Regions from separate parts of the Homo sapiens genome. Here all the other regions are linked to region 1. Evidence: fine-mapped expression QTL. A gene starts in region 1. Each other region holds a variant in brackets. All regions are shown on one strand. Distances are from middle to middle. Region 1 holds the start of THY1 (Thy-1 cell surface antigen). Region 2 overlaps USP2 (ubiquitin specific peptidase 2). Region 3 overlaps USP2-AS1 (USP2 antisense RNA 1).

What was found. PIP is the estimated chance that this variant, and not a neighbour inherited with it, causes the effect.
Region 2: its variant is the best candidate, but not a certain one, in a credible set for the expression of THY1 in atrial appendage (GTEx, PIP 0.68).
Region 3: its variant is the best candidate, but not a certain one, in a credible set for the expression of THY1 in gastroesophageal junction (GTEx, PIP 0.82).

The regions. Positions count from the first base shown.
Region 1 is chr11:119,420,008-119,426,887 of GRCh38, forward strand. It overlaps THY1 (Thy-1 cell surface antigen), which reads right to left and starts at 3,165. Exons shown (of 4, transcript NM_006288.5): 1 at 3,106-3,165; 2 at 862-922; 3 at 44-379. The coding sequence starts at 898. All of the region lies in intron 2 of USP2-AS1 (USP2 antisense RNA 1), which reads left to right. RefSeq lists enhancers at 1-211, 1,911-2,477, 2,478-3,043.
Region 2 is chr11:119,369,161-119,376,040 of GRCh38, forward strand. It overlaps USP2 (ubiquitin specific peptidase 2), which reads right to left. Exons shown (of 13, transcript NM_004205.5): 2 at 3,547-4,361. The coding sequence starts at 4,320. Among named protein-coding and RNA genes, the nearest start is that of USP2, 9.1 kb to the right of the region's middle. RefSeq lists enhancers at 1-211, 3,800-4,300. The variant G/C (reference allele first, on the strand shown) is at 3,279.
Region 3 is chr11:119,467,020-119,473,899 of GRCh38, forward strand. It overlaps USP2-AS1 (USP2 antisense RNA 1), which reads left to right. Exons shown (of 4, transcript NR_034160.1): 3 at 2,790-2,956. Among named protein-coding and RNA genes, the nearest start is that of THY1, 47 kb to the left of the region's middle. RefSeq lists an enhancer at 6,399-6,880. The variant C/T (reference allele first, on the strand shown) is at 3,415.

The sequences.
Region 1 (6,880 bases):
TGGCTCTCCCAGCTCACTTGACCTTGTTAGGGGCTTGTCTCACCTCTGAGCACTGTGACGTTCTGGGAGGAGATGGGTGGGGAATGGCCAGAGTGGTGGAGTGCACACGTGTAGGTGCCCTCGTCCTTGCTAGTGAAGGCGGATAAGTAGAGGACCTTCATGTTGTATTTGCTGGTGAAGTTGGTTCGGGAGCGGTATGTGTGCTCAGGCACCCCCACAGTGCCAAAGAGCACGTGCTTCTTTGTCTCACGGGTCAGGCTGAACTCGTACTGGATGGGTGAACTGCTGGTATTCTCATGGCGGCAGTCCAGACGAAGGCTCTGGTCCACTAGGCAGGCCGTTAGGCTGGTCACCTTCTGCCCTCGGGAGACCTGCAAGACTGGCACCAGCAGTGCCTCCTTCAAACTGGAGGGGCCTGCGGCACAGGGGCCTCCCACCCACCTGAAGTGGAGAGATGGGCCTGGCTAGGGAGGGGACCGGGGTCTGCTCTCTGAGTGCCTTTCCCCACCCCAGGGATCCCACTTCTCCTTTGCAGACCCCAGCCTCCCTCCCCACTCTGCTTGAGCCTTGGATCCTATCAATGTGTTTCAAGGACAGGAGATCTTAGGGAGTTGATGCTGGTTCCGGGTTCTCAGTTGGGGATTCTAGTTCAATAGTGTGAAGGAGGGCTCAGCAAACTGTGTTTTCAAAAACCACCTCAGGCCGTCAGAATATCAGCGCGGTGGATTGGCTGACTTCAGGATGAAAAAGAGCCCTCTCTTTGTCACCTGCGCTTTTCTGAGACTGTGAGGGAGAAGCTGCTTCTCTGGAGGGAAGGAAGCCAGGGCGCCTGGAGCCCCAGTCCTGCCCCATGCCGGGTACCTGTTAGCAGGAGAGCGATGCTGATGGCCAGGTTCATGGTTCTGGGATCTCAGTCCTGGATCTGGGGTGGGAACAGGATGGGAATCAGCCAAGCTGTGCCACACTTACCACCAGGGCTGGGGGTCCCTGGGAACATGGCATAGTGGCTATGGCAGTCATCTAAGTCCCTCTCTCCATTCCCCCTCTCGTCCCTGCATCTCACTGAACATGATACTGCCACTGGCTCTTTCCTGCTCAGGGAAAGCAAGGAAGGAGGGAGAACAAGCCCAGTCACGGTGTGTTTCTGCGCTTGGCCATGGAGCACTTACTAGCTGGGTGACTTTAAGTAACTTTACCACTCTTTCTCCTCTTCTTACATTAACATAGTGTATGGTAATATAAGACCTATGAGGGCTGAGGCTTCGTATTTAAAAAAAAAATTTAATCGTGGTAAAATACAAAAAGCATAATAATTACTATTTTAACCATTTAAATTCAGTACTTAAATTCAGTATATTCAGCAGTGCTGGATACATTCACGTTGCTATGCAGCCCATCTCCGGAACTCTTTTTGTCTTTCAAAGTAAAACTCTGTATCTGTTAAACAAAGACTCCCCATTTAGGGACTTCCCATTTCCTGTTCAGAAGAAAATCCCCAATGCTCAAAACCGTTTCCGTTTGCAGATTACTGGCATATAGCATACACTCCAAAGATATTTATTGTGAATGAATGAATGAATCTCTCTGAATCTTACATACCCACCGGGTTATGATGGGGGTTAAGAAAAACAACCAACATCTGGCGATGACTGCTTCATATACGTGAGACACAAATCCCTAAGTCACTCGCCATCCCCAGTGGATGGCTAGATACCATTCACCATAGCTAAGGATGCTCCCAGATAGGGAGCATCTATTCCTATCTGGATAGGACACAAGCTAATCGTGTTCCTGGAGGAGAGAAAGACATAGTGATCTCCGATTGTATGTGAGCCAAGGATGCTTCCCAATGTCCAGCTCTCTGGAGTTCCTGGGACTGCAGTTTTCCAGCCCAGTTTCAATAGCCACCCTGGATAGGCTGTCTGCCTGGTCTTTTTTTGTTTTTTGCAGCCTTGGCTGAACCAACCCTTGGCGAGGCGACGCGGAGCCGGTAGTCTAGCCTATCTGCAGAGCAGTGCTCGCCCAGGAGAGGCCACAGAAGGGGCGTGCACCCGCGAGAGCGCGCAGGGCATTGCCTCGGTTGAGTGCGCCCGGGTGCGCAGGGCGCACCACTAGACGAGTTCAGGGTCCCTGGCGCTCAGCCCCTTGACGGGTGAGGCTAGGATCCCGCGGCGGCTGCAGCTACAATCAATGCTCTCTCTGTCCCGGGGTGGAGCTGCTGCCCTGAGCCAGATCCAGGAGGAAGGGGGGTCGGCATCTGGCTTTTGAATCGAGGACTCTTGTTTGAGATGTTGTGCGGGCTTGGGATCTAGGAGGGGAAGGGGGAGCAATGGCCAGAGCAAGAAAGGGAAGAAATGGGTCTGGGGCTGGAGAGGGTAGAAGAGCCAGGGGAGGGGTGGAGAGCGGCTGGGGAGGTGCAGTCTGTATTCATTTCCTCTGGTCTGTGTCCTCAGGCGGCTCCAGACCCAGAGAAGGTCTGCTCTTCCTCCCTCTCAAGCCCCCGGCGGGCCTCATCCTTAATCCATTTCCGTATTCCAATCCTCTCCTTTCCCAAATGAGTCCCCCTTCCCCCTCTCTCATCCTTTTCCAGCTCTCCCCTCCCCCGTCCGCCCGCCTTCCACCCAGTCCCCGCCTGCGGCACTGCGGCTTCCTTCTCCTCCGGTGCCCCGCACCCAGCCCGCCGCGAGGTCACCCGGCAGATTCCCTCTAGCTCGCCATCCTCCATCCTCTCCCCGCAGTTTCATCCGTCCTCCTCCCCGCCTCTGCGAGCTGGGTTTGGGGACGTCTGGGTGGAATGTAGACCCACAGGCTGTCCTTGGTGCCCTTCCTCCCTGTTCTCCAGCGCCCCAGCCCCAGACACCAGTCCCCCAGCGGGCGAAAGCCCGGGAGCGCCTTCCCCGAAAGACATCAGGGTGCCACGCGGCCCCTGCCCTGCAGAAGCATCCCCCTCCCGCCCCTGCCTGGAAAGCAGGCCCCTCCCTAAGCTCTGCGCCCTTCTTCCCTGGGCGCCCTCGGACCGTGGCCCGAAGCCTAGTGTTGGGAAGTCTTGCATGGGCGCCTGACGGCGGTCCCCGAGCCCCAGGTCCCACCGGCTCCAGTTCCCACCTGGACTGGGGTCTTCCGCTGCTGCAGCCTCCTCCAGACGCGCCGCCGCCTCCGGTTGCTGCACCCAGCTCGGAGCCCGCAGTTTTCACCGGGGATGGAGGAGAGGGGGAGCGGGGAGCCGGGGGCTCAGCCAATCAGAGGCGGAGATTGGGGGAGAAAGGACGGCAGGGTGGGGTGGGGGGTGGGGAAGGAAGAGAAGGCGGTCCCGCATTGGTGTGAGAGTGGCAGGTTGCGGCGGAAGGGGGCCCTCACCCTGTGGCTGGCAGGCCTGGCCAGGGACGGGAGGGTTCGGGACCCCGGGGATCAGGGTGCGGCAGCCCAAAGAACATTATCCTCCTCCCTGAGCCCCGCAATGGTTGTTCCCCTTTTAAGGCTTTAACCCTTTCTTCTGACCTATTCTTCAGGAGTCTGTGGGAAAACCAAAGTGTAAGAGGTGCAGGATGCAGGCCGGGAGCGCCCACGCCTCCACATTTCCTTTTCAGCTGGAGCCCACCTCCTCCGGAGCCTCCAGTGAGAAGTTTTGGAATATTCCAGTCTTTCTGAAAGGAAGCTGGTTGGGTGTTTTTCAGTGTTGGAGCAGCCCTTCGGAAGCGAGGCAGGTGCTGGACCCACCCTGTCCGTCCCTGGTCCCCAGCCCCATTTCGCCCCCTCATCTATTCCAGAGCACCCAGCCCTTCAGGGGGCTGCAGGCGCTTTTTGCTCTGGGCATTACGTCTTCTTCAGCCCCTGGGCTGGCACCTTCTGGTCCAGACAGCTGGAAGGTTCTTCTGGCTTTCCTGAGTACAGTCTGCTTGTTTGGTCTTCAGACCAGGAAGGGAGTGTTGCCTTTTAGCAGGCACTGTGCTGGGCACATTACATTCATGGCGACCTTTAACCCATGGCCGCCTGCTGGGTTCATCCCATCTCAATCCTCACCTCCTGTCTTGGCTGGTAAGTGGGAGAGCTGGAGAACTGACCTGGGCTATGGACCCCAGCTCTCAAGGGTGAGCCATTCCTCTTGCTCATCCCTGCCTAGTGGGAGAAGAGAGAGAGGAACTCTGGGAAAGAGGAGGAGACAGCACAAAAAGGACTGAGTCGAGGCCAACTCCTGATCACCTGGGGCACTCCTGATAACCCACCGATTGGATGTCACCAGAAGCCCTAGGCTCATTTTTAGAGACAGTGCTGATGACTTTCTCTCACTCACAGGTGTAGTGAATTTTTTTGAACTAACGTTTATTTGATTGATTTGTATCCTGCCAGCCTCTTTATGAATTCTGATCACGACATTCTGTGGGCCTCCCCAATGTCTGCCTGCCTGTTCTCCTATTTCTTCATGGAAGTCAGCCCTGGCACCTTCCCTGCAGTTTCTGATACTGCAGTGGCACTGTTGGAAGCCACTGTTGGAAGCTTGCAAGTGGGAGGAGATTCGCTTGGTTTCCCAGCATTTAGGGTGATGGAACACTCTAACTGGAATGAGCCTTGCAGATGGTTAAGTCCAAAGGAGCTATTCACTTTGGTAAACTGCAGAGGTTTCTAGGGCATTTTATGAAAAATGCAGCTGGCCTTGCCCACCTAGGACCTCCTTAATCTAGTACTAGAGCCAGCTGAGTCTGCACTTTTCTCACGCTCCCCAGGATCTGGGGACTCTAACACATGATCTGGTAAGACTGTCCCTCTTCATAGGTGAGCTAACCTGGCTTCTTGTTTGTAGGATACTTTTTAAGGCCATGAATGTCCTGGCCCCTGGCTGCTGACTTCCCTCCTCCCTCCAACTCCATCCCAGCCATCTTCCCATTCATCTACCTGATGCATTCCAGACACACTGGCTCTGGCTTCTGTCTGCCTCTTCATGGCAGCGCACTCCTTCCTGCTTAACAGCTTTCTGATTCTGAGTCCAGGGATCTTAACTGCAGAAGGCATCTGGGCTCTGCTGGCTGAGGCCCTGGATGCTCCGTTTCCCACTCTTTGGCCCTGTCTCTGAGTGTTGCTGGGTGGAAGGCCTAGCAGTGCTATTTTGATAAGGTTATGAGGACCTGGCCTAATTTCTGGGTCCCCAAGCACCTTGCTTTTAGGCAGGGGAGGGGAGTATAGACTGTAGAAGGTGTGGCAATTCTGTGTCTGCCAAGCAAGATCTCTGATTGGATGGAATTAATGGCTCTGATTAGACATCTGAGGTCAGGGGATAGAGCACAAGGTGGTGGAGGGAGGAGATTTTAAAACTCCATTTACTGTGGATAGGATCGGAGTGCTGAAACCAGCAAGGCTTTAGAGGAATCCAGCTAAGGCAAGACTTCCTGCCAGAAGACTGCGGCTGCCCTGTTGGTCTCTTAGATCTCTCTTTTCCCACCATCTCCTGTTTTCCCACCCAGAAACATATGGGGATAAAAACTCTTCTAAAAACACACAGTCCTTTAGCATGACCTAGGGACTGCCAGCCATTCCCTCATTTCATCAGATTGTCTTTCTAGAATCACAGAGGTGACTACAGTGGTCCCATCTTTTAAATTTTATTTTATTTTATTTTTGAGCCAGGGTCTCACTCTGTTGCCTAGGCTAGAGTGCAGTGGTGCAATCACCACTCACTGAAGCTTTGACCTCCTGGGCTCAAGTGATCCTCCTACCTCAGCCTCCTGAGTAGCTGGGACAATAGGCACTTGACACTATGCCCAGCTAATTAATTTTTTTTTTTTTTTTTTGTAGAGATGGGATCTCACCATGTTGCCCAGGCTGATCTTGAACTCCTGGGCTCAAGTAATCCTCCCGCCTGGCCTCTCAAAATGCTGGGATTACAGGTGGGAGCCACTGCACCTGGCTTGCCCCACTATTTTATAGCTGGGACTTGAGGCCCGAGAAAGGTAATGATTTGTCAAGGTCAGACAAATATTTTGAAGCATGGTCTGGACTATTAGATCTTAAGTCTCCTGACTCCATGTTCCCACTGTGCTCTCCAGTGCTCCCAGGGCGGACCCTCAGATCTCTGCTAGACTCATTTCCCTGGTTCACGGTGAAATAAGTAAAACGAGGACAGTCCGGGGTACTCTGAACATAGCTGTCAGGTTATCACCTTGTTTTGATTTTATGTTCTTCACCCTGTTGATGAGGGAGAGATTCCCATCCCCTAAAGTTAGGGGGATCACATGACCTCAACACTGGACGAATGAGAGCAATAGCAGTTTATTAGTCACATATGCTCATACCTGGGAGGATAACACTGCACGCCATGAACTGCTTCATGGGAGTTGCACTCAGAAACAGGTATTACCAGGAGCTGTGGGAGGCAGGCTTTGTAATGTCAAAACGGTGGAATGCCCCCGTTTCCTGTAAGAGAATGTGATTGGCTGTTTGCATAATTCTGTGGGCTGGCAGGGTGCTGAAGCCCAGTACTCAGGGTTAAGCAGAAATTGTGCCTGGCCCCCACAATAAGGAGGGTGGTTTGGCTGGGGGACCTCATCAGCAAAGTAGGGAGGGGATCTTGTAATTAGGCCATTTGAGGTCTCCCTGATATCAAGGCAGCCATAATACTGAGCTCTAATCTTTGACTAATTGAGACTATACACCTGCCTTTCCTATACTTTCATTCTAAGGTTATACCTTTCCATTTTTCTGAAGAGATGGTGGTATTGATATGTGTGTATGTGTGGTTTTTAATGTCCTACTTTATATATAAAAAAAAGAAAATTGGTAACTTCCTGTTAACCCTCACACTTCTTTGGAAATGTGACTAAGTCTATGAAATTAAAATATCTTGGAACTGCTGCTCTACACTCCGCTACCTCTCCTAACCTCTAGTCGA
Region 2 (6,880 bases), 51 kb before region 1:
AGGTGAAGTCTCAGGGGAGGCCCTCATTATACAAGTGCTGAGCTGCGCCCCCCTGGCCTGGCATTTTGTTGGTGCTTACACAAGCATGGGGAGGGGATAATTCTGAATTTATGTGGCGCCCCCTGCCACCCGCCCCTGCCCCCCGCCAGCTCTGTGCTCATGCTCAGCTGAGTCTGTGATATTCAAAGTTCGTGTTGCCTATTACTGTTAATGAGGGAAAGAAGTCTGGCTAGAACTGTTCTCCCTGGTCACAGCCTGCTGTTGACCTCCCTTAATGAATGCCAGCTGTAGCTCCAGTCAGCTATCCTGAGAATCCCCTGGGACACAGGATGTACTTTTTTTTACCTCTGTTTCTCCCACGGGGTTGGTGGGGAGGGGGCTTCCTACTCTAGTCAGCTGCCAAACGCCCCCTTTCTATGATCTCTTTTCCCCCCTTAAGTTTAAATGACCTCTTCTGCAGCATTTTATTGATTTCACATTCCTCCACCTTCATTATTTGCTTTGAGCCTCATGGCATGCTTGAGAGGTGGGCAGGGCGGGCGTGATTGTTCCCTTTTATAGTCTAGGAAATACAGCCCAGCTGATAGGTGTCCAAGGTTAGAGAGGCCAACTGTTCCTTCCACTGGTCACGAGCAGCCCGTCCCAGCCTCAGATGACCTCTCCCTTTCCGTCCACCTGTGACACTCAAGAACACCCAGGGCTGCCTCCCATTGTACCTATTTAAGAACTTCTTCTTGGCCAGGCGTGGTGGCTCACACCTGTAATCTCAGCGCTTTGGGAGGCCGAGGCGGGTGGATCACCTGAGGTCAGTTCAAGACCAGCCTGGCCAACATGGTGAAACCCCGTCTCTACTAAAAATACAAAATTAGCCTGGTGTGGTGGTACACGCCTGTAGTCCTAGCTACTTGGGAGGCTGACACAGGAGAATCACTTGAACCTGGGAGGTGGAGGTTGTAGTGAGCCGAGATCGCACCACTGCACTCCAACCTGAGTGAGACAGAGCGAGACTCCATCTCCAAAAAAACAAAACAAAACAAACTTATTTCCCTAAGTGAATTGTGAAGGCACTGAAGGCAGGGACTGTTGCTCGCACACATCTCTTGCCTGCCAAAGCACCAGAAGGGTACAACAACGAGGACTAACATTTACTAAGCAACATGCCAGGCACTTTCACATACATTATCTTTTCATTCCTCAAGTAATCTGTGAAGTGGGAACTATGATCACTCATCTTACAGAGGAGGACACAAGTTCAGAAGCTAAGGGACCTATCTGAGGTCACGCTGCTAGTAAGCTGAGCACCACAAATGAGTGCCTCAGAAGGCAAGATCCCCAGATGGAGATCTAGAAAGAAACTGGACCCAGTTTTAGAAAGAAGTGGTCCAGGCCGCACGAGCAGGGTTGTTCTCACCTCAGCAAGACGCACTCTGCTCCAGGAAATGACGATAAGGGGTGGAGAGATCAGGGTGAGGTTAAATAAAGGTCTTGTACTATTGACCCTGGAGAGGCCTCTGCTGGTTGGCAGTATCTTCTGGGGCATGAGCTCAGAATGAAACACTAGCTCAACTGCAGGGCATTCCCGGCTAAAGTGCCTTATGAGTTGCTTCTGGATGAGGGTGGCTGAGTTTGTCCCAGGGCAATCTGCCACTTCTTTGAGGTCCTCTCTCAAAATTCCCTTCACCTTGGCCCTGGAGCCGGGGGGAGGAGCCAGGGTTGTCCCTTCTGGAGAGTTGGAGGGCGGCAGACTCCCAGGAGGGTTGGGCCATGCCTGTGTGGGGAGGAGGCAGATTCCCAGTGGAATCTGATCCCCAGTAAAGGGGAATACTGCTGTCATGATTGGGGCTGAGGGTGGGTCTGTAGTTTAGTCTGCGCTGAGGTTTTCCATCTCAGCATGCCTAGAGATCACCCAAAGAGCTTGTGGAAAGAGCAGCTTCCCAGGCCCCATCCCGAGAGAGTTTGCTTCAGTGGGTTTGGATGAATCGTTAAGCCCTGCAGTGACTCTGACACAGGCAGTCTGCAGACCCCACTTTAAGGAGCACTGCTGACCATGAAACAACCCTTCTCTTCTGAGCAAGGGGAGGGAGCCCCGCAGAGGCTTCTAGGACCCGAGCCCCTCCGAGGAGAGCCATATTCTAATTGCCCTGGGGTTGAACAGCACCAGCCGAGTCCAAGTGAGTCCTGCTCCACTCCAAGCCCAGCACGCAGCACCCTGAGAGCTGATACTTCCCCACCATGCCAGCTCTGTTGTGACACATCTCTCTTCTCCACTCCTTTCTACAGTGGATCCAGCCCTGCCTTGTCAAGTTCTGAATGTTCTGGGAGGCACCAGCGTTTCTATCTCCTGTGCCACTTCACAGATGGCACAACAAAGCCAAGACTCCCTAAGTCATATTATCAAAGTTGCTCTCTCAAGACCTTTAGTTATGCAAGCTTCAAGGTCCTGCCCCTATTCCTGAACCCCTGCTGCATTTGTCTGGATCAGCCCTCCAAGCAGTATTTCTTGCTGTGGCATGCTGTTGTTTTCAAAATGTATTTGTCCTAGGAGTAGGGAGGGGTACATAAGGTAATGGAGGAGACACAGCATCCAGCCCTTCTGCCCATATGCTTGCCTGTCCATCTGTCCACCCGCCATCTACCCGTGTATCCACCCACCCACCACCCACACATCCATCCATCCATTCATCCCTGCAATCAGCAGGTCAGCCCCCATTGTGGGAGGCACGTGGCAGGGGATCTAGAGATAGGATTTCTTTTTCCTCCTCTGAGAGCTTGCCACCTAATGGGCACACTAATAACTACAGAAAAGGCAGATGTCGTCAGTGCCCCAAGAGAGGCGTGTGCGGGCATTAGTTGGCGAGCGAGCCCATGCCAGCCCTTGGTCAGTCTCCAGCAGAGCCTCTTCCCTCATTCCAGCTGAGGCAGGGCTGGAATAGAGGTATTGGATTGTCTCAAGCCCTAGATAAAAATTTCTCCCCTACTTTCTCCAAAGCCAGATGATAAGCATTGCTGTCTGATACCCTGGTCCTGAGTATGCCAGTGTCACTCAGAGGAGAGTCCCTCTTCCCCTGATGTCTTATGTCCAAATGTAAAGCCAGGCCTTGGGGCTAGGGAATAAAGCCTGCACAAGAGGGGAGATGCAACCACAGCAAGGAGGCCCTCCTGCCACAGGGTGCACTGGTGGTCTGGGCCCCCCCGCATCCAGCCCAGGTTGGGGCAAGGCCTGCAGGAGACACTGGCATGTCACATAGAAAAGGAGAAGGTGAGAAGAGTGGTTCATT[G/C]GGCGCAGCAGAGCATTCCTGAGAACACTACTGGACTATCCTCGAGTGCGCGGGCCCTGAGTGGGCTTTCTAGGCAGAGTGGGAAGGCCCCTCCCCTCGGCACGGAGCCCCAGGGGCACCAGATGTGCCAGGATGACTTCTCTTGTTTGTCTCCACCAGGAGCAGCCTGTCAGTCATCAGTCAGGTTGGGAGTCGAGCCCTCAGCCTGGCTGTTCTCCATCAGTGGCTGCCTCCCCAGCCTATCCCCGGTCCCCAAGGGTAAACTCACCATGCCGTCTCTTCCCGGGGAGCTGGAGCGGCTGGGCCCAGGGGCCTGACCCTTTCCCGTCTCCCACAGCGTGTAGCGGCCAATGGGTCGGTAGGTTGGGCTGATGATTTCAGGGACTCGTGAGGGAGGGGCCTGGGAGGGCACCTGAGATGCACTGCCCTTGCGACCATAGTTCTCCAGGTAGTCGACCAGGTATTCAGGGCAGCTGGCTGTCTGGTAGAGCCCCTGCAGGGTGCAGAGCTCCTTGCGCGTCCGGGCCAGCATGGGGCTGCGGCCCAGGTTCCTGGGGTCTATCCGGTAGCTATCTGAGGTCCGGAGGCTGGAGAAATCCCGGGCCAGGTCTGATTGGCTGTCCAGCTTCTGGGTTAGGGTCACCCCCTGGTCATAGGCATTGATGGGCAGGTAGCTGAGGCAGTTGTTGGTCACTCCATAAGGGAATCCGCTGCCCCCGCTGAGGCCACTGCCTAAAGGCCGCTCAGTACCCCGGGTCTGGCTCTCTGCCCGCTTACCACCCCCAGTGATGTCGGGTCTCAGCAGGGGGCGGCCCCGGTCATAGTCCAGGAGGGAGGAGGGGCCATAGGTACGGGGACGGGTGAGGAAGCTGCTGGTGGGGACCGGCTTGAAACCAAGTTTCTCCTTCTCCAGTAAGGAGGCAGCCAGATTGGCCCCATAGGAGGACGGGGTGTAGGCACCATAGCCCGACTTGGCATAGTGGGCATCTGTGTAGCGGGCCGATTCTGTGTAGCGCTTCAGGGTGGAGGAGAGCTGGGACATCCTTCAGGGTGGCACTCAGTGGGGACTGGGAGCCTCATGGGCTGAAAGACAAGGAGTGTAGTTGTCAGAGGGCCCTGCCAGGTGTCGGGCTCCCACAGACCTGCTCCCCATCCTCAGCTGGGCCAGAACCTCAGAGCTCCCAGTCCATTTCCACAAGAGGCAGGCTGGCTGCTGAGAAGCACACATGCACGCAGGTGTGCACAGGAGCTTGCTTGCACCTGTGTGTTCACACCTCGGTGAGAGTGCGAGGGATGAGGTGGCTTTTATATGCCACACAGGAAGTCAGCGCATCCTGGCCATTCAAAGACTCAAACACGCAAGCAGGGGCTATCTGACCTCCACAGCCCACCAAGCCGTGCAGTCTTCCAGGTCAAATCCCATTGCCTCAGCATCTGCAGAAACTCTTGAGCTGGGGGAATGCCACTGACCCCTGGGTTGAGAATGCTGGATATTTCAGGAGTTAAGACCACATCTGTCCCTTCTGACTTATGTGATGAGCAGGTGTCTTTTTGGAATCCTAGACTGTCTGTGCTGGAATGACCTGAAGATCATTTGGTCAGATCCCCTGTGAGGCCAAGGAGGCTCAGGGGAGGAAGTAATGGGGTGTGGGTGGGCAGGGGAGGCCGTGAGTGAGCATGCAACAATGAGGGGCCAGAACGTGGTCTCCAGACCCTTTCCCCAGACACCAGCACCTGCTGCATGGTCCCACAGTGAGGGACACTCACTTCACTGAGCTAAGCTTCTGTTCTAAGTGGAGTTAGGGCCCTGTGGCCTCCTAAGAGTTCCTCTACCAACACAGGCTTCCTCTACAAACACAGATCTCAAATTGGTCCTGGCGATGCTTGTGCAAAGGGGGCCCCCTACAGTCCCAAATCTTGCACTGCAGGTGGCATTCCCAGTCCTTCCCTGCTCCAGTCCTGCAGCTGGGGAGGGTCTAGTGAAGGAACACAGACACTGCTGAATGTGGAGCTTTGAGAGCCCCAGAGGATCATGAATTTTAATCTATCTGTTATACAGATGGGAAAAGTGATGCTTATTTGCCCCCGGCCACACACCAGCAGAGCCAGGACTGGAATCCAGGTCTTTAAAATCCTGGCCAGTGTTCTTTCTACTTAACCTGGAGTTACCTCCCCCGCATCAGATTTAGGGTCAGTTGGGGACCCCCAGAGGCCTTCCATCACCGTAAACGTGCAGCCTGTATCCAATGGAGCTGGAGTGGCAGAGGAGCAAGTAGGGTCAGACGCCTTTCCCCGAGGGCATCAGGGGCTCTTGGGGGGCTTTCTAGGGGGATGGAGCAGAGCCATCCAGGACTCTCAGAGTTGTGGGACTTGCCCTGTGATGGACTAGCTGGGTGATTTTGCACTAGTCACGTAACCTCTCTGAGCCCCAACTTCCTCATCTGTAAATGAGTAAAACCATCATCCTCATAATTCCTACCTCACAGGGCTGTTGTGAGGAATAAATGAGATAACAACACGTGAAGGGCTCCACAATGACAGTGGCTACCATCTCCTCCCCCAGCTACTGCGAGGCAGCATGGCTCCGCCCTCTGAAGGTCTGTGATAATATCAGGGCTGGCTGTCTCCCAGCCTGGCCAGCCTCTGGCCTCAGCTTGGGATGCCAGGCCTCCCCCTGCAGCCCCCAGCGAGAGAAACAGGCAGTGGGCAGACATCTGGCCACTCAGCAGACACTGGCTTGGCAACCCAGCCCATTAGGGCAGAGAGGAGCTGGTGCCAAACCCCAAATGCGAGGGCTTGGCAGAAAGCTCTAGAATCCCAGTCCACACAAGGCTTTGGGGTAGGTACAGGGGTGAGAGATGAGCAGGTGGCTTCCATATAGGCCCGGAACAGCATTCCTTGACCCTGCCTGAGAACTCCAGCAGTTTTCAGTCCAGGCTGACATCAGAAAGGCCTGGTCCATCTTACTGTCTAGCCTTTTGCCACCTGGCCCAGGGGGCCCCTGGCCCTTCATGTACACTCCTTTGCCCACTGTGCCCAGCACAACTTTCACCCCTTTCTAGGAAAAGGTAACTGGGGGATGATGTCACACAGCGTTAGAGGGAAACCATAGCGGGAGAGACAGACAGAGGCACAGGGTCGGGGTGGGGGCCCAGTCCTGCCCTATTTTGCTTTGGAGAACTCCATCAATAATGCAAAGTCAAAGAGACTCCAGGTCTCAGGAGCTGGGCTCTGGGACACCAGGCAGCCAATCAGATACAATCCCCCCAACAAGGGTATGAGCTCATGGCTCCTCCCCACAGCTCTCCCTCTCCCTCCCCCACAGTAAGGCTCTCAGGGAATTGGTATTCTTCGGGCAGCGCCCCAAGCCCGTGACATCCCTTGACCCTGCTGATGACGCAGAAGTGCTGGGGCCAAACGAGGTCCAGAGGACAGGGACAGACAGCTCTGAAAGGCTTTGGAGCCGGAGGTGGGGCCACATCTCTGGCCCACAGATTCCCAGGAGGGCTCCCAAATCCCCACTCTCCCTCCCATCTGGCAGGTGATTGCCAGACCCCTCCGCCTCCTCCTAGCAGCCCTGGGAGTCATGCCATCACTAATAC
Region 3 (6,880 bases), 47 kb after region 1:
TGTGTACTTACTATTACCAGTTTTTTTCCTTCGGATGATTTATTGTTAATTAACATTCTCTTTTTTCATGTTGAAGAACTACCTTCAGTGTTTCTTGTAGGACAGGTCCGCTCTTGATGAAATCCCTCAGCTTTTTTTTGTCTGGGAAAGTCTTTATTTCTCCTTCATGTTTGAAGGATATTTTCACCAGATATACTATTCTAGGGTAACAGTTTTTTCTTTCAGCACTTTAAATATGTCATGACACTCTCCCCTGGCCTGTAAGGTTTCCACTGAGAAATCTTCTGCCAGATGTGGAGCTCAATTGTATGTTATTTATTTCTTTTTTCTTGCTGCTTTAGGATTCTTTCTTTATTCTTGACCTTTGGGAATTTGATTATTAAATACCTTGAGGTAGTCTTATTTGAATTAAATCTGCTTAGTGTTCTATAACCTTCTTGTACTTGAATATTGATATTTTTCTATAGGTTTGGAAAGTTCTCTGTTATTATCCTTTTGAATAAATTTTCTACCCCAGTCTTTCTCTCTACTTCTTCTTTGAGGCCAATAACTCTTAGATTTGTCTTTTTGAGGCTATTTTCTATATCTTTTGTGTTTGCTTCATTCTTTTTTATTCTTTTTTCTTTTGTTTCCAATGTGTGTTTTCAAATAGACTGTCTTGAAGCTCACTAATTCTTTCTTCTACTTGATCAGTTCTGCTGTTGAGAGACTCTGATGCATTCTTCAATATGTCAATTGCATTGTTCAGCTCCAGAATTTCTTCTTGATTCTTTTAAGTTATTTCAACCTCTTTGTTAAATTTATCTGATAGTATTCTGAATTCCTTCTCTGTGTTATCTTGGATTTCATTGAGCTTCCTTGAAACAGCAATTTTGAATTCTTTGTCTGAAAGGTCACATATCTCTATTTCTCCAGGATTGGTTCCTGGTGTCTTACTTAGTTCATTTGGTGAGGTCATGTTTTCCTGGATGGTGTTGATGCTCGTGGATGTTTGTCAGTGTCTGGGCATTAAAGAGTTAGGTATTTATTGTAGTCTTCACAGTCTGTACTTGTTTGTACCCATCCTTCTTGGACAGGCTTTCCAAATATTCAGAGGGATTGTATGTTGTGATCTAAGTCTTTGGTCACTGCTGCCATATCTGCTTTAAAGGGCACCCCAAGCCCAATAATGCTGTAGCTCTTGCACTAGTAGAAGTACTGCCTTAGTGATCTTGGGTAAGATCCAGAAGAATTCCCTGGATTACCAGGCAGAGACTCTTGTTCTCTTCCCTTACTTTCCCCCAAACAAACAGAGTCTCTATCTCTGTGCTGAGCTCCCTGGAGCTGAGAGAGGGGTGACACAAGTACCCCTTTAGCCACCACCACTGGGACTGCACTGGGTCAGACCCAAAGCCTGGACAGCAACTGAGTCTCACCCAAGGCATGCATTGACCACTGCCTGGCTACCACCTATGTTCACTGAAGGCCCAAGAATCCCTACAGTTAGCAGGTGGCATATTGAGCCAGGCTTATGTCCTTTCCTTCAGGGCAGTGAGTCCTCCTGGCCCCAGGGGGGTCCAGAGATGCCATCCAGGAGCCAGGGCTGGAGTCAGGAACCTTAGGAATCTACCTGATGCTCTATTCAACTGTGGCTGAGCTGGCACCCAAGCCACAAGACAGAGAATCCTTCCCACTCTTCCCTCCCCTTTCCTCAAGTACAGGGGTCTCTCCCCGTAACCACTGCCACCCCAGGCCTGTGGTAAATAGTGCCTGGCTATGTTCAGTCGAGGCCCAGGCTTCTTCATTCAGCTTGTGGTGAATGCTGCCTGTTCCTAGTCCCTCCCTTCCAGGCAGCAGGCTTCCCTCTGGCCCAGAGCAGGTCCAGAAATGCCATCAAGGAGCCACAGTCTAGAACTGGGGACCCAGGAGCCCATTTGATGCTGTACCCTACTTGGGCCTAGCTGGTACCAGGTTCTTAGGATTTTTGTTCTTATTAAGGTGCTTTTCTGTGTGGACAGTTGTTTAATTTGGTGTTCCTGCAGGGGGACGAACGCTGGAGGCTTCTATTCAGCCATCTTGCTCTGCCTCCCCTCATTGTCTTTTCTTGTCTTTTTCTTTTTTTCTGAGATGTGGTCTTACTCTGTCACCCAGACAGGAGTGTAGTGGTGTGATCACAGCTCACTGCAGCCTCCACCTCCTGGGCTCAAGTGATCCTCCCATCTCAGCCCACCAAGCAGCTGGGATCACAGGTGTGTGCCACCATGCCTGACTAAGTTTTTGTGTGTGTGTGTGTGTGGAGATGAGGTCTTGCCATGTTGCCCAGGCTGGTCTCATACTTCTGGGCTCAAGTGATCCTCCCACCTTGGCCTCCCAAAGTGTTGGGATTATAGGTGTAAGCCACTGTGCCTGGGTCCATTGTGCCTTTCAATGACATATTTTAAAAAGTTTCCTGGCAGGTCCTTGGTTAAGGCTTCCTTCCGGGAGTTGCTCTTTCCATAAATCATGGTAAGGAGGTTGTGCCCTCAGAAGCTGAGCCCACCCCGGCCCTCCTGGGCATGTGGAGAGCAAAGCCTCCTCTGCTGAGGAGTGAAGCCAGTTCCCTCAGGGCTGAGGGAGGACTGGAGAGATGCATGTTTTAGAGCAAGGGCGTAGTCTGTCCCTTTGGGCTTCTCAGAAGGCCATGATCACAGTGGCTGTTTTCTGGCCCCTGGGTCTCCCCTTGAGCTGAGGAGGAGATATGTCCACCTGGTTAGGCTTGGAGATTCATGGCTTGGTCCTTGGATTTTTGAGGGTCTTATTTATTTTCTCAGGCCAAGTTCCCACCTGGTGGGAAGCACTGTGCAGGTTCGTGGGGATGCAGCCCTGCACAGCCCAGACTGGACTCCTTCCCCATGGAACTCACAACACACGGGAGAGGCAGAGAGATCCAAGCGCACAGAAAAACACAAGAAGATTCAGCCCTGTCATCTTGTGCAAAGTGAGTTCCACATAATTCAATTATAAAATGAGAGATTGTGTTTCTGTGAGCTTCATAAAAATGAATTATTTCTCTGTCACAAAAAGTAAAGACAGTACAAACGACACTGTGCATCATAGTCCTTACACTGAATTGAGAACATCTCAAATGGTCCTGAGGCCACCAGTTTCTGGACACCGCATCTCCTCTCCGAAGACATGAGCTAGGGCTTTGCGTCATCTAGACCAGGACTGGATGCTGGCTATGGGAACAGCATGTGCAAAGGCCTGGAGCCCCATCTGTGTCTAGCCTGATGGGTGCCAGATGAGGAAGCCAGGACCACGAGCATCTCCTGGGCAAGGCTGCTCTTCCCGGGTAGCCCCAGCACCCAGCCTGGTGTCAACACACAGTAGGGCTCACAGGTATTTCCAGACTGATGGAAGCTCTAAGGGGAGGTGCTCAGGGCCCAGGAGGCAGGG[C/T]TGGCCTGGGAAACATCACTGCACTCCTTCCTGGCAGCATCTTCCTTTGTGCCTTGGCAGATGTTCCAGGAAAGCTGGCCCACGCCCTTCCCGCAAGCCTTAAGACGGCTGCCTTTTGCCTGCATTTAAATGCAGTGTACCAAATGTCAGTTGGCCACTGACTCATAAGCTTTCTGAGGCCACACATGCCTTTGAAATGCTTCAGAGAGCACTTCTTACAGAAAATCCATATACTGCACCCACCCAATTAGATATGGAGTGTTCTGGGGTCCTCTCCGCTGGCCTGCCTGCGAGGCGGCCCATTTGTAGAGCTCAGAGACCCCGGCTCCCACCCCGCCTGGCCCCTCTCCCTCCAGACTCTCTGATGCCTGCAGCGTCAGGTGTCCCAGCCTCCCCTGGGAGATCTCCTGACCAGGCTCTGCCTCTCTCCTGTGCCCACAGCTGGGCCGGGGACAGCCTGTTCCCAGCAGACAGTCAGACCAGCCCCACTTGGTAACTCAGACTCCTAGACCCCAAACCTGAGGGGCTGCTGTGATGGCCCCCCCAATAGCTCTCCCTGTCCCTCCCTGGCTCTTCCTCCTCTGAGAGGCCTGGGAAGGTTCAGAGGCTCCAGATGCTGGAACACCCGTTTCCCTGCAGAGGCTCAGCCAGCCTCGCTCTTCCCTTCTCTGTGATCCCTGTGGTCCCACCCAGCTTGCTGGCTTCTAGTGAGCCAGCCCCGCTCTCCCCTTCTCTGTAATCCCTGTTGTCCCACCCAGCTTGCTGGCTTCTAATGTCACGAATGCCTCTGCTTTCACTCCATCTCCCACCTTTGCTTTCTAGTCTGCACTGATCATGACATTTCCACCATCTCTTGCTAGAACCCTGGACTCCCTTACCCCTCTGCCTTGCTCCTGCCCGGTGAACCCCTAGCCCTAGATGGCCCCAAGACAGTGTCCTCCCCAGCAACAAGTCTAGCTGTTCTCCCTGCACTTCCCTCCCCGTCCGCTGTGCTCCCATGTCCCCTTTCCTCCCTCACTCCCAGGCTGTCTTCCATTTCCCAGGGACTAAGGGAGGTGAGAGGGACAGTGGCACTCTGAAAAAAGATCAGAGGCAGCAGGGGGCCGGGGGAGGAAGAGACTCTGAAAGTGAGCAGTACTCAGCCATACCCAGCAGGACTCAGGGTACTCAGTTGTATTCAGCAGGACTCAGGGTGCCCAGCACACCCAGCAGGTCTCAGGGTTCTCGGCTGTACCCAGCAGGTCTCAGGGTTCTCGGCTGTACCCAGCAGGTCTCGGGGTTCTCGGCTGTACCAAGCAGGTCTCAAGGTTCTCGGCTGTACCAAGCTGGTCTCAGGTTTCTTGGCTGTACCCGGCAGGTCTCAGGTGCCCGGGTGTACCCGGCAGGACTCAGGGCACCCAGCCATACCCGGCGGTACTTTAGAAATACTCAGTAGTACTTAGGGTGCTCTAGTGTGGACTTTGTCCCTCCAGTGCCTTGGGCTGAATTGGGTCCTCACAAAATTCACATATTGAAGTCCCAACCCCTAGCCAGGACATCAGAATATGATTGTACAGTTAACCCTTGAACAACAAGGGGTCAAGGGCACCGACCCCCTCGTAGCCAAGACTCACATATGACTTTTGACTCCCCCCAAACTTAACTACAAATAGCCTACTGTCGCCTGGAAGCCTTACCAATGACAAACAGTTGAACACATATTATGTATGGTATATGTATTATGTACTGTATTCCTACAACAAAGTAAGCTAAAGAAAATGTTATTAAAAGAAACAAAAGGAAGAGAAAATCTATGTATTAGTCATTAAGTGGAAGTAGATCCTCATCAAGGTCTCCATCCTCCCTGTCTTCATGCTGAGTAGGCTGTGGAGGGGGTGGTGGGGGTGGGTCTTGCTGTCTCAGAGGCAGAAGAAAATCCGCATGTAAGTGGACTCACAAAGTTCAAACACATGTTGTTTCATAATCGCCTGTATTTGCAGACAGGGCCTTTACCGAGGTAATTAGGTTACCATGAGGTCATATGGGTGGGCCTTAATCCAATATGACCAGTGTTCTTATGAGAAGAGGAAACGAGGGCATAGATTTGCACAGAGGAAAGTCTGGGTGAAGGCGCAGGGGAAGGCGCTTCTGCAAGGCAAGGAGAGAGGCCTCAGAAGAAACCAGTCGCGAGGATGCCTTGATGTCAGACTTAACTTCCAGCCTCCAGAACTGTGAGGACATTTTTGCTGAGGCCTCCCAGTCAGTGGTGCTGTGAGCTGGAAGAAACCTTGGAGGTCATCTCATGATCCATCCACTTCTGTTTACTGATGGGCAGATGAGGCCAAGAGCAGGAGTGCAGGGCCACAAAACGAGTCAAAGACAGCGCTCCCAGGCCAAGGATGGCTTCTTAGCCTGGCAGATGCCAGGACTGAGGTGCTGGAACAAGAGAAGCTGGGGGAGAGACAGGTGGGGTGCAGGTGGGAGGAGGGGGCACCCTGTCCTGGGGCAGGGCAGGTACAGTGTGCTCAGGGGAGGAGGAATCTGAGGGAGCGCAGTTCGAGCTGCCCACGTGTGCGTGTGTGCGTGTGCGCGTGCACAAGTGCGTGCTGGTGGTGTCGGGAGGGAAGGCAGGGAACAAGCGTTGTCTCTGCCTCCAGGAAGATGTGGTTGGCGGGGGTGGAAAGTGGCCTCTGGAGGTTTGACCAAGTTGCCTCCGGTGGCTCGTGTCTGTAATCCCAGCACTTTGGGAGGCCGAGGTGGGAGGATTGCTTGAGCCCAGGAGTTCAAGACCAGACTGAGCAATATAATGAGACCCTGCCTCTACAAAAAAATTAAAAATTAGCCAAGTGTTGTGGCACACGCCTGTGGTCTCAACTACCCGGAAGGCTGAGGTGGGAGGATTGCTTGAACTTTGGAAGTGGAAGGAGGTTGCAGTGAGCCGAGATGGCGCCACTGCATTCCAGCCTGGGTGACGAGCCTGTACTTCAGCCTGCACTCCAGCCTGGGCAAGACCCGACCCCCCACCCCTGCCAAAAAAAAGACTACTCTGGCTGCAGTGTGGAGGGCACCAGTAAAAACAGAGCAGCACCACTCTCAGCCTCATCTCATCTCCCTGAGCCACACTTCACATGGAGGCGAAGGGTGATGGCAGCATGGCTCAGGGAGGTGAGATGGCGCTGAGTGGTGCTAGGATCCGAGATCCAGGGTGAGGGCAGAGTGAGCAGGAGGGGGAGGCTGATTGAATTGGGTGCAGTGGAGGCTGGTGAGGGCCACTGACAGCAGGTGGATGGACTAGTCTGGAACCCAGAAGAAAGATCTGGGCAAGGACTTAATTTGAGAATTAAGGCTAGGTTATAGGAGCAGATGTGGCTAAGGGAATACATGCAGAGGAAAAAGAGAAGAGGCCTGAAATGGAACCCCTAGAAACACCTACATTTATAGGATAGCCTTTAGAGAAGGAGCCTCTCTGAGTTTTCTCATCTGTAAA